2 separate regions of the Homo sapiens genome follow, and region 2 is linked to region 1. The links come from fine-mapping of genetic effects on gene expression. A gene starts in region 1. The other region holds a variant in brackets. All regions are shown on one strand. Distances are between the middles of the regions. Region 1 holds the start of WNT5A (Wnt family member 5A). Region 2 overlaps LOC124906243 (a long non-coding RNA gene).

What was found. PIP is the estimated chance that this variant, and not a neighbour inherited with it, causes the effect.
Region 2: its variant is fine-mapped to the expression of WNT5A in fibroblasts (GTEx, PIP above 0.99).

What each region holds. Positions count from the first base shown.
Region 1 is chr3:55,484,397-55,489,696 of GRCh38, forward strand. It overlaps WNT5A (Wnt family member 5A), which reads right to left and starts at 2,910. Exons shown (of 5, transcript NM_003392.7): 1 at 2,584-2,910. The coding sequence starts at 2,589. It overlaps WNT5A-AS1 (WNT5A antisense RNA 1), which reads left to right and starts at 3,222. Exons shown (of 2, transcript NR_046656.1): 1 at 3,222-3,483; 2 at 3,594-3,912. RefSeq lists enhancers at 4,534-5,044, 5,045-5,300.
Region 2 is chr3:55,161,647-55,167,015 of GRCh38, forward strand. The region is part of intron 2 of LOC124906243 (a long non-coding RNA gene); the gene reads right to left. Among named protein-coding and RNA genes, the nearest start is that of LINC02017, 14 kb to the right of the region's middle. The variant A/T (reference allele first, on the strand shown) is at 2,786.

The DNA.
Region 1 (5,300 bases):
TACTCCCTAAGCCTCACGCCTGGGCGCAAGGGTTGTGTCCACAGCAATATGTGTGTTGGCGCGCGCGGAGCGGGGTAGGGGAGGAGGGAATTGCCAGATAGAGAAGGCGGAGGTTACACCTTGAGCCAGAATCAGTATGACAAAAGAGAGCCGCCCAGGCCTCAACACTGACAGCAGGTTCCAGGTTCGGGTATAGAGAGGCCCCAGGGGAAGAACGGTCTGGCCTGGTTCTCCTCTGTTTCCTGCCCCCTCGTCCATCCCTTAGACTGGGCTTTCCAGGCCCCAGGATACACACACACACACACACACACACACACACACACACACACACACACACCACTCACACCTTCTCACATAGGATGTCTAGCCCTCTCGGCAGAGGATCAACTTTGTCCAGAGGTGGAGCAGAGTCCTTGGACAGAGGAAGAAAATGAAATGATAGTCCAACCCCCACTCTTTAAAGGTAGTTTCTCTCCCACTTTTTAATAGACGATTAAAGTGAGGCGAAAAGCGGGAAAGCAACACTTGTTCTCGATCATAGAGAGTTGGGAGGCAGCTGAGGCCAGACCCGAGGCCTCCTAGGGCGACACTCTCCTTCCCAAGCCCAGAAGAAGAGGTACCAACCCTGTGTCCAGCTGGCCGAGTCCCATTTGCTGGGCTGGACCCGTGGCCCCTTCCGTATTGCAGCGGCCGGCGGCGCAGCGAAACTGGTCCTCTGGGGGCCTCCGAGGGCCCCTGCTGGGAGAGTGGGGTCTGGTGGTCGGGAGGGATGAAGGGAGCAGGGGTGGGAGGGAGAGGGGAGCAGCTGCCCGCCCGCCCGCCCCAAGGAACCGAGGCTCGCAGGAGTCCTACCTCAAGGCGGCCAACAGGGGGCAGCCGGCACCGCACCGCGGGGAAGAAAAGGCCGCGGGGATGGCTCCGAGTTCTGCGCGCATAGTGCTAACCCCTTGAGCACCGGAGCGCACGGGGGAGGGGAGGAGAAGACAGGGGACTCTTGGGCCGGGCCTCCTGGGGAGGGTCTTCCGTTGAGAGGGTCGGGGGGTGGAGGAGACGAAGGCTACTACGTCCTGGACCCGAGAACAACTCCCCTACACACACAAACACACACGCACACACACGCAGCCAAGGATCCACACACTCGGACACACACACATTTGTCGGCCCGCGGTTCGCTGCGCACTCTCCGCATTGCCCCCTCGAAACTCCCCTGGCAGAGTCTGTCTAGAAACTAAATCTGGCTGGTTCGGCAGTGAATGTGCGAAGGTGGCTGGGGGGAGGGCAGGGGCTGAGGAGGTGCGACCTCACCGCAAGGCCCAAGTTACTTCCAAACAGCGAATTACCCATTTAAAGAGAGAAGAGAGAAAAGAGAGGCGAGAGAGGAGAAGGGGCCTCGATACCAGACAGGGATTAGAAAGTCAAACAGGGCCGTGGGGTCTCCAGACTTGAAGTTTTTTGTTGTTGTTTTTTTTAACTTTTTGGGGGGAAGAGGGGTTATTTGCTTCCAGGAAACATCTTAATTTCAATTCTAACCTTATTTTCTAAGAAACTTAAAATGGGAAAGACCAGAAAAATGGAAATAGGAATCGAAGCTTGGAGGACAGATAAGAAAAATTGTTTAGAAAATAAAAACTTATGTTGCAGGAAGAAACGTTAACTTTTCGTAAAAGTGAACTCTCAGTGACCCTCGGAGTGTGTGATTCGGCTTTAACATACAACTGACAATTAAAACAAACAAGAGTTCGCAAACTGGCCCCCGCCTGCTCTCCCAAAGCGGAGGCCCAAGTGTTTTCTAAAGGACAAGGCGGACTCCGCTCAGGGGGCCGGGGAGCGCTGTCCCGGAGTACGGGATTACAGCCACTACCACCACAACTCCCCGCCCCCACCACTGCTGCAAAGTGCCTGAGCTCACCCAGTGGCGGCTAATAATGCTAATAACGCGACCCCGCTCCCCGCGCCGGGGTGCGCGCTGGCCCCCCGCCAGGCACTCTTAAAGGCAAAGGGGCCTGAAGCGCTCGAGTTACTCGGCCAAGGCAAGCCTACAATCTGGCCTCCGTCGGTGCGGGGGGGTGTCGGGGAAGGTGTACGCCGCTCTGGAGTAGTTGGCCCCTAGTTCCTCTGCGGGTTCTCTCAACCAAGGAGTCCCTTTCCCCATCCCGAGCCCCGGCCACACACCGTCCCGGTGCCCGCGCAGTGGGCGCTTGGTAAATATTTGTTGAATTGAATCATTATCCTGTTACTGAAATATACATAGTAAATTACACTCGATGTTCTCAGAGCAAAAGGAAAGTCGTCAGTGAACCGCACTCAGTTTGTCTACTATCGCTCTTCCCCACTTTTTCTCAAAAATCAAAATTGTTTGCAGAACGGGTGGTGCGACCAGAAGTGATCTCCTGGGACACTGAGGCAGTGCGCCCGGCGTGGAGGGCGAAGGGGTAGGGGTTCCTGCCAGCGACGCTGGAGTTCCAGCTTCTTCAGGCGGTTGGGGAAATGGAGGGATAGGAAGAGGCGAAGGGAACTCAGTTAACTTCCAACAGGGGGTGGGGGGAAGTAAAGAAAAAAAGTGGCAGCGCACTGAACACCTACCTTCATGGCGAGGGGGAGGGGGCGCGGGGAGGAAGTCGCCACCCGAGCGAGCGCAGCCGAGGAATCCGAGCGGAGCGACCGGGTTAAGCCTGGGGGGACGGTCAGGAGCAGGGCTGCGGAGTCCTCCGGCGCGCGTCCGGCGGGCGCAGTGAACCGGAGCTGAAGCGGGCACTGGCGCCCGGGCCTGGACTCCCGAGTTGGGGCAGAGCTGGGATGCGCCCAGGAATGGAGGGGGCGCGGACGCGCGCGAGCCGGCAGCAAGGGCAGGGCCTGGTCGGGGCGCAACTAGGGAGCCGCCGGTCCGGCGAGGGCGCGCAGGCAACTGTTCCACGGAGAGGCGCTCCGTTTCCAACGTCCATCAGCGACGGCGGTAATTAGGGCTTTCCAACCCCAAATGTGGGCGTGATTGTGCAAAAGACCTTACGACAAATAATAATAAAAAGAAATTCTTCACAAGAGGGTGAAAAAAATGTACCACTACTCAACTGTGGCCCGGGGCGGGGGAAGGGGGGCGATCTGTGCGCCCAGGTGCCCCCAGTTCATTCACACCACAGATTCTGCAAACTCTTGGCGGCTCACGCCTCCTGATCTCCAGCTCCTCCTCTCTGGGTCTGTAGCCGAAACGTCTGCTTCCAGACGCTGATCCTGCAGCCGCGAGTTAGTGTGGACGTCTCTGTACACACACAGACACACACCCCAACACACACACCCCCGCTGCAGCTTTGGGGCCACAGAACAATCAGGCGCGCATGGCTTTTTCTCCGGGAGATGCCGCTGAAAACGCACAAGTCGCCATCTGAGCTGCAAGAGTCAGCCCCAAATTGTGTCCTTTCATTTTAGGGTTCGGCAAAAACGGGGAGCAAAATAGGTGAAAGTCGCCCCGGAACTTATTGCTGTGCGGTGAGCTGGAGGGGTGCGACTAACCCAGGGGAGACGCGGGCTCCCCCCCCCCACCACGTATCCCGTTCTTTCTCTCTTCGGGTTGATCTCTCTTTTCCCCGTTTTTCCAGGGCGAAGGGCGAAGAGCAGCGAGTGCACCGCGGGCGCGAGGCTGGGGAAGGGCGAGAGCTCGGAGCTCCGCGGCGGCGACTCAGCTCCGGCGGTCCATGGCCGGCGAAGCTGCCCACCTCCTCGTTTGGCGCCCGGGTCCGAGGGGCGGGAGAGCGGGCCGGCGGGAGGCGGGCGGTCCCGGGCACAACGGCGGCGGCGGAAGGGCTCGCTGGGCAGCTGCCGCACGGACCCCGGCTCTGGGCGGCGGAGGCGGCTCCGTGGAGCTCGCAGCAGATTTCCACGCGATCCTGTGCCCCGCAAACAGACTGACCGACCGCGGGGACGCGTCCCCCCCTCCCACCCCCCAGCCCTTCTGGCCAACTGCCTTACTCTCTCCCTCCCTCTCTCCAGACTCCTCTTTCCCCTGGTGTTCTCAGAAGGAAGAAAAAAAAAAAAAGAAAGAAAGAAAGAAAGAAAAAAGTTCTTTAAAGTTTCAGAACTAGGGGCGGCTGGAAAGAGAGAGGGAAGGGGGGGGAAGAAAGAAAAAACTCAACTTTGCTATGCGCATGCGTGGTGAGGCCGGCCTATGACAAACTCTGCAGGATTTTAAAGCCGTACTACGGGCTGGGGTGCCGGGAGGCGGGGTACACTCTCCTTGTCTCCCCTTCTCTAAGTTCCCCATCCCCCGCGGCATCTGCTGAAAGAGAGAGGTCCACTCCGCAGCCGCTGCCTGCCTGCCGCCTGGTTGTCTGCGCTCCTTCCAGAGCCACCGACCGGCGGGAGGCTGAACCCCAACTTCCCCGCCTGGACCCCTTGGCTCGCCCGCGTATCCCAGACCGCTCCCACTGGGGCTCCACGGAGACTGCTGCCTTGACATGGAACCTCATGGGGGACCTCCTCATTCTTACCTCTGGGGGAGGATACTTAAGCACTGGGGCTGATGGATAGGGTTAGGCGCTCACCTCCTGCAAAGTCCCCAGAGTAGTAGGGACTTGGGTAGTGGGATGCATGATTGCTCATCTGGCTCCGGCCCAGAGCATGAGGCGCGATGCGTGGTCCTGCCACGGAGATCTTGGCGGGTGCCCTCAGGTGAGGAGATTGCGAAGTTTGGCAAAACCGGGTTCCGGGCACCGGAATTTCTAGACGCTTCCAGATGCCCGTGGTTTTGGGGACTCCGGAGGGGCAGGGTTGGTGGATTTGTGTCCGCTACCTCCAGCACGCCGAGGGCCCCACCCCACAAACAGTGCCTCACACTGGAGCGTAATAGTTATTTTCCGCCGTCTGCATTCTCCAGCTGTCAAAGGTGAAGACACACACACGCGCGCACACACACACACACACACACACACACACACTATTCAATTTTCTCCGTCCATTGGCATGCACTTGACCTTAAGGCGAAAAATCCGTGGCCTAGGTGTTTTGGTGTGGTGGCTGTTTTGTTTTGTTCCTCCAGTCCTCCCCCACCTCCACCCCCACACCCCAGAGGGCGCAGGCCCAGGCTCCAGCGATGCCGTTCCACCCTCCACAGCCCCTTCCCATTCCTTAATTTTCCTAGCCGACTGGACCCTTCCCCAGCCCTGGCCTCCTTCCTGGCGCGCAAAGATGGCAGTGTGAACTTCCCACCAAGTGCCAGAGACAGATGCTCCTGCTTAGCACCTCCCGCCTCCCACCAACTTGCTTTCTTTCCCCCAGGGCGTGTGCGGCCTTAAGGAGAGGGAATCCAA
Region 2 (5,369 bases), 320 kb before region 1:
TTCTCATATTTAGGATGTGGGGGTATGTACAGGGCATTGTCTACTTTATAAATGTCTCTTCTTCCAAAATGGAACTGGACAAAGTCAAGACAGAAAACAGTTTCAGATATCCATTCAAAGCAAGGATAGGTACTTAGCACTGAAGCAAAATCTTTGCTGAGATATCTATAGGAATTGGTAAATGTAAATCATTCAGGGGGTCTTTTTAAAACGTGGCCTGAGTTTATCCCCTTTTGGGTCAAAGACAGATGTCAGAAAGCTTCTTCTTTACCCAGCTTTGCAACCTCCCATCTGCCTTCAATTAGGCAAGCGGTCAGCCTCTCCACATTTAGGGTACACCAAGGCAAGGCCCTGAGTTACACTCTTGTCGCAAACCCACTAGGAATGACTTCACAGCTGGACACGGTTTGTCCCACAGAAATTCCAGACACAACATTGCCCAAAGCATTTAGGCCTTGCAGACCACGACATTATATTTTAACATGTCACTCATAATCCTGATTCTTCCTCTCTCCCTATCTGGAAACTCACGTTTGCCTCTCAGATTGCATCCTCTATGCTTTGAAAACACTGAGTGATAACCACACTGACTCATCTGTTCTGAGAGGAGGCTTGCTCTGGCCAGGCCAATTTGAACTCTGAGCCACAGGCCCTGACTTCTGAACCTTCTCTAATGAGTCTGTTTTGTGCCTTACATATTTTTACCCAAAGATAAGATCTGTTCTCATTTTCTCTAGATCTATTTATGCATCCCTAATAAGCAAGTTGTTATAAAAAAGCAAGTTTAGATGTAGTCTAAACACTTGAATGTGTAGCAGCTGCAAGATTACCTGTTTGAAGTCTGTTGATGAGACTTCTCCCAGGGAGGACATAGCAAAGGGAAAGGCATTCAAATCATGAGAAGAACATAGAGGTGGGGTTTTTGGTTTTAGTTTTGGTTTTATTCCAAGCCAAAAGACTAAGCTCAGAGAGCATAATATCTCCATTCCTCAAGGTCATGGCCAGGCCCAGATGTTTTTTGCTTTGTCCAACATTTGTAGGCTCCTCATTTCTGGCAGTAGGTGCATACAGTATAGACTTGACTTCCTTTGAATTTCCTGCCATTAATAAGGCCCAGGGTCAATATAAAATATGTATTGAATATCTAGTCACATTTTTTCAGGCAGCATTAAAATTCTTCTCTATGGAACATAATGTTTGATGTACTTGGAAAAGGCTACTTTGTTTTATAATATGTACCTCTGAGGAAGTCAAATATTTTTATTCCTTGATTCCTTCCCTCCCTCCCTTCCTTCCTTTCTTCCTTCCTTCCTTCCTTCCTTCCTTCTTTCCTTCTACTCTTCTATCCTTTCATCTATTCATTCATTTCTCCATTAACACATTTTTTCACATTTATGTCAAGTATCTACTGTGGGCCAAGCAGTGAGCTAAGTATTAGAGATAAAAATAAATCGAACATCCAACTTGATTTTTAATCTTGTAGGGGAGAGAAAGTTAAACTGGGAAAATGATGTAACCAAAGTATAAGTAAAGTTCACTGGGAGAGTCAATAAAGTTCACTGGGAGACCCATGGGGGAAGAATTTGCTTCTAGAATAATTAGAGCTGGGCTTGAAACTGGCTCTCTCCCTAACTAGCTGTGTAACCTTGGGCTTTACTTAACTCCTGTGAGCCTTGGTTTCCTCATCTTAAAATGGGGATTATAGTAGAATCTATTTCATTGGATTGTAGTGAGGATTCAGTGAATGAATGAGGTAATCATAAAAAGGGTTCAGTGCAGTACTTGACTTCTCTATGATTAGAATTAGTGATCCTGTCTAGGAAAACCTTACAGAAGAGGTAACATTGGTCTTAATCCTGAAGAATGAGTAGGGACTTGAAAAGGGGGAAGAACATTGCAAGTAGAGGGAAAACCATGTCTAGGCCTGGAGTCATGCATATGTGTGACGTGTTAGGCAGCAGATGGTCAGTGTGGTCAGACAGAGGGGATGTGTGGGATGGGAGTTGAGACTGGACAAGTAGGACAGCTGGAAAAGGACTATGTATTCGATGGTGAACTACATGCTTCAGACAGGAAACAATGGAACGTAGCATGGTAGTTCTCACTCCAGAAACCAGAGACTGAATCCTGGAAGGAGAGAGACGGATAAGAAGCAGTTTCTTAGCTGTCCATCGGCCTCCTAAGGTTCGCATAGAGCTTTCAGCTCTGTTGTCCATCCAGTAACCCTAAGATATTTTCCAGTTTAGGCTAAGGTATTTGGCAAAAGATTCGGGAGACCTCCTGCCTTCCTCTTCTTCTGCCACTGGCACACCCTCATGGTCCACTCTGATGGTGAAGGGCTGGGAAGTGGGAATTCTTGGGTCTCCTCATTCATCATCATGGCTGAGTCTAATGGGATAATGGTTGAACAAGAGGGTCTTCAAGGTTACCCCCAGTTCTGAGTCATGATTCCAAGTTACAGGGATTCACTTAACCTCATAAGATAAGTAATGGGCCCAAGGTCATACAGCCAGGGAGTATGACCAGCAGAACCAGGATTTGAGCCTAAGCTGCCTAGCTCTAGACTCTGTACTCTTAGTTTTTGCCTTACACTGTCTCTATTCTGTGCTCAACCATTTTGCCCAGGCCAATGATCACATTTCCCTACTTTCTGTTGTTCTCAAGTTTAGACTTAGAATTTAACTTGGGAGCAAGTGGGTTTTGTGGTCTGTTTAATTAAAATTCTAGAACACAGAGTTCTCAGCAGAGGTCTTGCTCTGGAAAGCATCCTGGGGGCTGGACCTTA[A/T]GCAAGGCATGGGAACACTTGCAACAAATTTTTCCCTGTACTGGCTGGCCTTTAGGAATGGGGCTCCTGGAGAGGAACTTGATTGGCCTCACTGCTCCTCTTGCCACATGTGGGGTGGCCAGATTCCATTATTTTGCAGCACAGGTGAGGATGAGGAAGTGTGCATGTGTGTGTATGTCTTGTGTTGTGTTTGGAGGATTGTCCATAATGGAAGTGCATAAACATCAATCAAGGCTTCTTTTTCTTTTTGGGTGTTCAAAGTGTGGAGGTGATATATCCTGTTCTAAATTGTGAATGGTATTTTCAAATACTTTAAAACAACGCTTATTATCAAAGGGCAGAAGAGATGTGCTTAAAGGTAATAACACCTTATTGGCTTAGAGGCACCTTGCTGGCTTTAAAATGCTTTCTTGGCCTGGAGTGTAAATGTTATTGGCTTTGAACTCACTCCCAAATTATACAAAGGTTTTGTCCCTCTCTTGACTGCCAAATGTTTGAGCCCCACTTCAGCAGTGTCTTGCTGAGAGGCCACACTGCCATAGGCCCTCAGACAGCTGTAAAATCTGACAGCCTGAGTGAGGGAATCCAAATCTGTTTCTTATTGAGTAGCCAAGATGGCTGGGTAACACCACAGCCAGCTGTAGATCACTTTTATGGACAGCAAGGGATGTGTCATCTCAGTAGCATCTGCACAAAGTATCTTCTTGGATGATTCCAGGCTGAGGAAGGGCCAGGTGTGGCTGTACATTTTTGTAAAACCCCTCACATGTGAACAAAGTCCACTGCTCAGCACATCCTGCGCTTTTCCAGCATCTCTTAGATAGTGAATTTGGTACCTCTTGATCATTGAAATTCAGGAATCAACTTAAAAGGTAACTTTCTGGTGCTAAAGCACATCTCTCTCCTTCTAATGCCGAATTCACTTCATTATCCAAGCCCTTTGGTCTCTGACTTACAGTAAATAATTATCCACAGCTGTTGCAAGTTGGTTTATCCTCCAATAAAGGTCAGGATGACTGACTAGACATCAGAGGAAAAACTTCTAAAATTTGGTGTTTAGACTAACTTACATCTATGTTTATCTCTTTTGTGTTTGTTGTAACTAAATAGGCGAGTGCGGTTTGTGGTTAAAGCATGACCAGGCAACCTGGATGTCATGGTTTTCTCTCTAGTTCTTTAATTTTGATGCATGTGGAATTCTCTCCTCCTTTGATGCCTCAATTTCCCCAGCTGTCACACATAGATCAGCATTCAAGGGTTCCTCTCATAGACTTCCTCGGGGGTGATGGGGAGAGTAATGGGGATCTGCTTGTCCATACTCTAAAAAACCAAATTCTAGAAACCAATTCTCTTTATAAGACCCAGGGAAGGCCAATCCACCTCCATTGCTTGACAGACTTCACCTAAAGCTGAAATAGTCACAAACTAAAGTTTGCTGGACCATGCAATGAAGCTGCAAGTACTCCCCAGGGGAGTTTACCTTCAACACCAGGAGGCCAAAGAAACAAAAAGGCCCCATGTCCCAGCAGGAAATGGGACACACTGGTGCATTTCCATTCACCAGGAAAACTAGAAGGAGAGGGAAACTTCTGCCACGCACATTTCCAGATGGGATTTGTGGGCTTGGCTCATGGTGGGGCCCACACAAGCTCTCCAGCTGTGTCCTGGGATCTCTAGGAAGAGGCCTAACAGCAGGATGAGGCAGGAGACGTACTTCCAGGGATAAAAATTTATTAGGATAAAACCTAATGCAAACACAATTTTCTCTGGAAACACCAACAAGAGGAGCAAAAGAATAAGCAAAGATGATTCCAAAGAAAATGAAAGCGATTGCGATTAATGGTTGGGGAGGAAGGGAGGAAACTACAGGCCAAGAACAAAGAACAAGAAACCTCTGAAGCTTGCTACAAAGGGAGCTCTTGACCCCCTAGTTGAAGTCATTATTATTTCATGCCTACTAGGGCTGCCAAACGGGCCTCTCTGAACTTGAGCTCTGCTTTTTTGAATAATACACTCCCATCATCATGTTGATTAGAGTACAGGCTAGGAGCATGGTATAAGGTAGAACCTTTTGGGATCAGACAGACCTGGAGCTGTATGAGTTATTTAACCTCACTGTGCCACAATTTCCTTGTCTGTACAATGGGGATATGATACTACCTGCCTTAAATGCAATCATGCTTGTGAGGTACCTAACACACTTATCCCTCAATAAACGATATTATTACTTCTCTTAGCACTATACTTCTTTCACACCACTTCCCTGCTTAAAACCCTTTCATGACTCCTCATAGCCCATGGCATGCATAAAGGGTGAGCAATTTTTTTACAGTCAATGGCTCCACCTTGCTTTCTGGACCAGAGCTGTCCAATAGAACTCTCCACAACAATGGAAATGTTTTCTATCTGTGCTTTCCACTCTGGCAGCTATCAAGTCCAGGTAGCTATAAAAAGCAGATAATATAATTGACGAACAGATATTTCAATTGTATTGAATTTTAATTCATTGAAATTTAAATAGCCACGTGTGGTAAGGGGCTATTATATTGGACAGCACAAGTCTTAGACTTTTATATCTGCTTCA